Linked DNA regions of Homo sapiens: region 1 is linked to region 2. Evidence: fine-mapped expression QTL. Tissue or cell type: esophagus muscle. Region 2 holds a variant in brackets; the other region holds the start of a gene. All regions are shown on one strand. Distances are from middle to middle.

Region 1 (2,500 bases), 22 kb after region 2:
AGAATTTGCCTTCTGGAACCAAACCTTTTTTTCTCAGCCTGTGTTTACCCAACTGCCCTTTCCAATCGAACAGAAAGCAGAGAACCAGACACTTGATTGTGTTTAGGCAAAACCTCAGGCACAAGTAGGTGTTAAGCCGACCCCCTTTAAGAAACCCCCCTTTGTCGGCCGGGCACCGTCGCTCGCGCCTGCAACCTCAGCACCTTGGGAGGTCGAGGCGGGCGGATCACGAGGTCAGGAGATGGAGACTAGCCTGGCCAACATGGTGAAACCCCGTCTCTACCAAAAATACAAAATTAGCCGGGTGTGGTGGCTGGCACAGGCCTGTAATCCCAGTTACTCGGGAGGCTGAGGCAGGAGAATCGCCTGAACCAGGGAGGCAGAGGTTGCAGTGAGCCCAGATCTTGCCACTGCACTCCAGCCTGGGGGACAGACTCCATCTCAAAAAAAATAAAAATAAAAAATAGTTTGTCACTACAGTGCCCACAAGGAAACGTTAACACACATTCCACATCGTCTGCTTAAACAGTTTGGTCTAGCACAGTTCCCAGACCTTGAGCTCTGTGAAGACAATTATTTCAAATTACACATTGTATGGCTCAAATACTGCCTCACGCCTATCAGACTCAGAGCCAGCCAAGGACGGCAAATACTATCACAAGCTGCCCGAGAGGATACCGAAAGGAACCACATCTCTCTGTGACACTTGGCGGTGGCCGACTTACCTTCAGACACGGCGTTGGCATTTTCCAAGGCAACCTGGGATGAGGCAAAGGGACAAAAGGCCACCAGACGAACGATGCTGTGGAATTTGCCCAGGTTGAGCACAGACTCCTCCACCTGGGGGGAGAAAGAGGCTAAGTGGTTTCCTTCCCTCCCTCCTGCCTCTGCGGCGCAGTCAAGCAGCGGTTCTCAGCCTTGGAAGCTCTTAAAATATGCTGATACCTGGGCCCCACATCCCAGCTTCTGCTTTAATCGTTCGGGGGCGGCGTCCGGGAGGCTTATTTCTAATTGCTAGAGCGATTCTACCCATGGGTCAAGGTAAAGACCCCCGGATCTAGAGCTTTCCAGGCCCGTCCCCCCGCCCCGAACCGCTCGGCCGGCCACGTGGGAGCGCGCTGTGCATGCTGGGACCCGCGCGATGAGGGTCTGCGGGGCCGCCAAAGGAGCCCACGGATCTCACCCACCTGCGGCTGCAGCAGACTGATCTCCTCCACTTCCTTCAGCGCCAGCAGCGCGTAGCCGACCGCGTGCTCAAACAGCACGTGCAACAGCACCTGGAACGGGAGCCGGGGCGCGAGCGTCAACGCAACCTCAGCGTCTGCCGGAACCCGTTCCCAGGGCAGGCGCAGGCGCAGGCGCAGGCCCAGGCCCAGGCCCAGGCCCTGTCTGCGGCCCGAACGCAGGCCGAAACCCCCACCGTCGCGTCGCCCGCGCCCCGCAACCACTCCTCACCATGGCGCCAGCTCCCGGGTTCGGCTCGCAATGCGGCTAGCGCGCTCCGGCGCGCGGAACCAGGCTCCAGAGGCCACGCCCCCGCCCCCCCGACCAATCGGAGGCCGGGGACGACACCATCTCCGGCCTTTGGAGGGGCCGCCCAGGGTGGTATCGCCCGGAGCGCGGGCTGGGTGGTGCCGAGCGCGGGCGAGCGGGCCTTTTCCGGCCTCTGCAGCTGCGCGGGCGGGCGTGGTTGCCGGGGACGCGCGGCCCCCGGTCGGGCACTGCAGGCGGCGAAACGACTTGGGAAGGCCCTTTCGGGGTAATAGTCCGGTTCCTGATGTTCTTGTCATATGAGTTACGGGCAGCAGAGCTGGGTGAAGTCGGGGCGGGAGGTCCGCGTGGGGCGCGGCGTCCATCCCAGACAGAGACCGCTGCCTAGCCGGCTTCCCGCTTCGTCCGTGGCCTCGGGCCCCAGACCCTGCGCCCCACGTCCCCGGGACCCAGGCGTTCCCGTCCCCTACTCGGGGACGAGCCTCCCCGGCGCCGGGTGGGCGGTGCATCCTTTCCTCCCACCCGTAACGGGAGCGGTGCCTGGCGCGCTCTGGCGCAGACCCTGCTGGGAATGTAGCTCGCGCAGTTTTCTTCGTACTATTAATTTATTTCTTTTTTTTGTTTTTGGTTTTTTTTTTTTAAATGACTGTAGCAGGCAGTAACGTGCGAAAGAAAGACGCTCCAGCGTCTTCCTAGGCCAGTTTCTTGTTGCTGTGCTGCACGGGACCCAGCTCCTTTTGCTGGGCCACGTGTTGCTCCTCCGCTTGGGCGGCCCTGAATTCTGGGCGCTGGTGATCGCTGAGTGAATCGCAGCTGCTTCCCTGTCCTTGAGGGCGTCTTTTGGGCACTCAGGCGACTCTTTAGAAATGAGTTTTGCTTTAATAATTAATATTAACGTTATAAATCCAAAACCTAGTTATACTTAAGTAGCGTATCCCCTGGTATGTTTTAAAGAGTCATTCGAAGGGGATTTTTAAAAATAATGTATAGCTATAAACTGCATTTATAC
Region 2 (2,753 bases):
TATTTATTATTATTTTTTTAAATTTGAGATGGAGTCTCGCTCTGTTGCCTAGACTGGAGTGCAATGGCGCGATCTCGGCTCACTGCAACCTCCGCCTCCTGAGTTCAAGCAATTCTCTTCCCCTAGCCTCCCAAGTAGCTGGGATTACAGATGCACGCCACCACGCCCGGCTAATTTTTGTATTTTTAGTAGAGACGGGGTTTCACCACGTTGACCAGGCTGATCTGGAACTCCTGACCTCAAGTGATCCACCCGCCTCGGCCTCCCAAAGTGCTGGGATTACAGGCGTGAGCCACCACGCCCAGCCCATGCCTGTTTTTGGTTCTGCATAGCTGGTGCTGAGGTTGAACGTGGACACTATAAGGTGTCAGCCTAGCCAAACCATCATTGTACCAGGCCAGGTGCCTAGGGAACCCTCTGTGACTTGAGGGCCCCATTGAGCCAGCAGCTTTGCTTCAAGTGGTGAAGTTAGGAAAAGATTTCCCCTGAAGGGATTTTTGCTGCCACTTTTTCATGTAAAACCCAGCTAATATTAGGACCAGGCCAGCTGTGTTACTGAATACAGTATTTCCATTGGATTAATAATGCCTTTTGTGCCCCTCCCTTAGTAGCCACCAAATCCAAGTTGACCCATCCCAAAATGGGAGTGTCAGTTTGGAGAGTCACAGGAACTTTTTGGGTCAGTAACAAGTTAGTGGGCACCTTTTTAAAAAGGGGATGGGGGCCTGGCATGGTGTTTCATGCCTGTAATCCCAGCACTTTGAGAGGCCGAGGAGGGCAGGTCGCTTGAGGTCAGGAGTTCAAGATCAGCCTGGCCAACATGGTGAAACTCTGTCTCTACTTAAAAACAACCACCAAACAAAAAAGCCAGGTGTGGTTGCGCATGCCTGTAGTCCCAGTTACTCGGGAAGCTGAGGCAGGAGAATAGCTTGAACCTGGGAGGTGGAGGTTGCAGTGAGCTGAGATCATGCCACTGCACTCCAGCCTGGCAGCCGGGGAGACAGAGCAAGACTCTGTCTTAATAAAATAAAGTAAAATAAAATAAAATAAAATAAAATAAAATAAAATAAAATAAAAAAGAGGGGATGGGGCCGGATGTGGTGGCTCAGGCCTGTAGTCCCAGGGCTTTGGGATTATGGAGGGAGGATCACTTGAAGCCAGGAGTTCAAGACCAGCCTTGGGAACAAAGCAAGATCTCATCTCTACAAAAATGTATTTTTAAAATTAGCTGGCATGGTACGTGGTGGCAGGCACCAAGCTACTCAGGAGGCTGAGTGGGGAGGATTGCTTGAGCCCAGGAGTTCCAGGCTGCAATGAGCTGTGATTGTGCCACTGCATTCCAGCCTGGGCGACAGAGAGAGACTGTCTCAAACAAAAAAGGGGGATGGGGGAGGGATGGGGCCAGGTGTGGTGGGATGGAAGGATCACCTGAGGGCAAGGAGTTTAAGACCAGCCTGAGAGACCACGTCTATGAAAAATTTTGTAAAATTAGCCGGGCATGGTAGCTCACAGTTGTCGTTCCAGCTGCTCAGGACAGTGAGGTGAGAGGATGGCTTGAGCCCAGGAATTCAAGACTGCAGGGGGCTCTGATGGTGTCACTGCACTCTAGCCTGGGTGACAGATCAGCAACCACTCTCTAAACA[A/G]TTTTTTTTTTTTTAGGCCGAGTCTCGCTGTCACCCAGGCTGGAACGCAGTGACGTGATCTCAGCTCACCACAACCTCCGCCTCCTGGGCTCAAGCAATTCTCCTATCTCAGCCTCCGGAGTAGCTGAGACTACAGGCGCATGCCATCATGCCCGGCTAATTTTTGTATTTTTAGTAGAGACAGGGTTTCACCATATTGGTCAGGCTGGTCTTGAACTCCTGACCTCAGGTGAACCACCTGCCTCGGCCTCCCAAAGTGCTGGGATTACAGGCGTGAGCCACTGCACCTGGCCTCTAAACAATTTTTTTAAAGCTATGTGCTTGGTGAGTGTGTCAGGCAGGTGGTGCTATTGTGCTTGAGAACAGCCTCTGAGTAATCTGGCCACCTTTGAGACTAATTTTCAGATTTCCCTTTTCCTTCCTGATTTTTTTTTTTTTTTTTTCAGATGGAGTCTTGCTCTGTCGCCCAGGCTGGAATGCAGTGGCACGATCTCGGCTCACTACAACCTCTTCCTCCTGGGTTGAAGCGATTCTTCTACCTCAGCCTCCTGAGTAGCTGGGATCACAGGCGCCCGCCACCACGGCCGGCTACTTTTTGTATTTTTAGTAGAGACCAGGTTTCACCATGTTGGCCAGGCTGGTCTCAAACACCTGACCTCGTCATCTCCCAGCCTCAGCCTCCCAAAATGCTGGGATTACAGGCATGAGCCACTGCACCTGGCCTCCCTCTTGAAAGTCTAAACTGTTTCTCCTGGACCATCTAAGAGGGTTCAGAAACCACCTTTCCACATGTGGCAGTCTCTGAAAGGGCGAATCCCATCTGACACTTATGGGCATTGGCAGTACAGGCCGGTATGAGCATCAATACCAGTAATACATTTGCAGTGAAAGCCACTGAATTGGCCCAAGGGCCCCACATGGAGCGTTACTTAATTTGCCTTCTTCCACTGCAAACTTTGCTCAAAGCCTATCAGTTGAACTTGGGGGATTTTTTACCTTCTGGGAAAACAAACCAAGGTGTTTAGTGTGTGCACATCAGGAGCAAAAGCAACAGCTGCCGGGAGCTCAGGCTAGCTCACAGGGTGCAGCTAGGAGGCTTTTATTTCTCCT

The links. PIP is the estimated chance that this variant, and not a neighbour inherited with it, causes the effect.
Region 1: NOP56 starts here. The variant in region 2 is fine-mapped to the expression of NOP56 in esophagus muscle (GTEx, PIP 0.97).

What each region holds. Positions count from the first base shown.
Region 1 is chr20:2,651,619-2,654,118 of GRCh38, reverse strand. It overlaps NOP56 (NOP56 ribonucleoprotein), which reads right to left and starts at 1,487. Exons shown (of 12, transcript NM_006392.4): 1 at 1,456-1,487; 2 at 1,188-1,277; 3 at 726-840. The coding sequence starts at 1,458. It overlaps MIR1292 (microRNA 1292), which reads right to left and starts at 1,342; the gene lies at 1,277-1,342. It overlaps LOC105372505 (a long non-coding RNA gene), which reads left to right and starts at 1,655. Exons shown (of 5, transcript XR_007067502.1): 1 at 1,655-1,759. RefSeq lists an enhancer at 774-863 and a silencer at 1,364-2,003.
Region 2 is chr20:2,673,484-2,676,236 of GRCh38, reverse strand. All of the region lies in intron 2 of LOC105372507 (a long non-coding RNA gene), which reads left to right. Among named protein-coding and RNA genes, the nearest start is that of IDH3B-DT, 11 kb to the right of the region's middle. The variant A/G (reference allele first, on the strand shown) is at 1,644.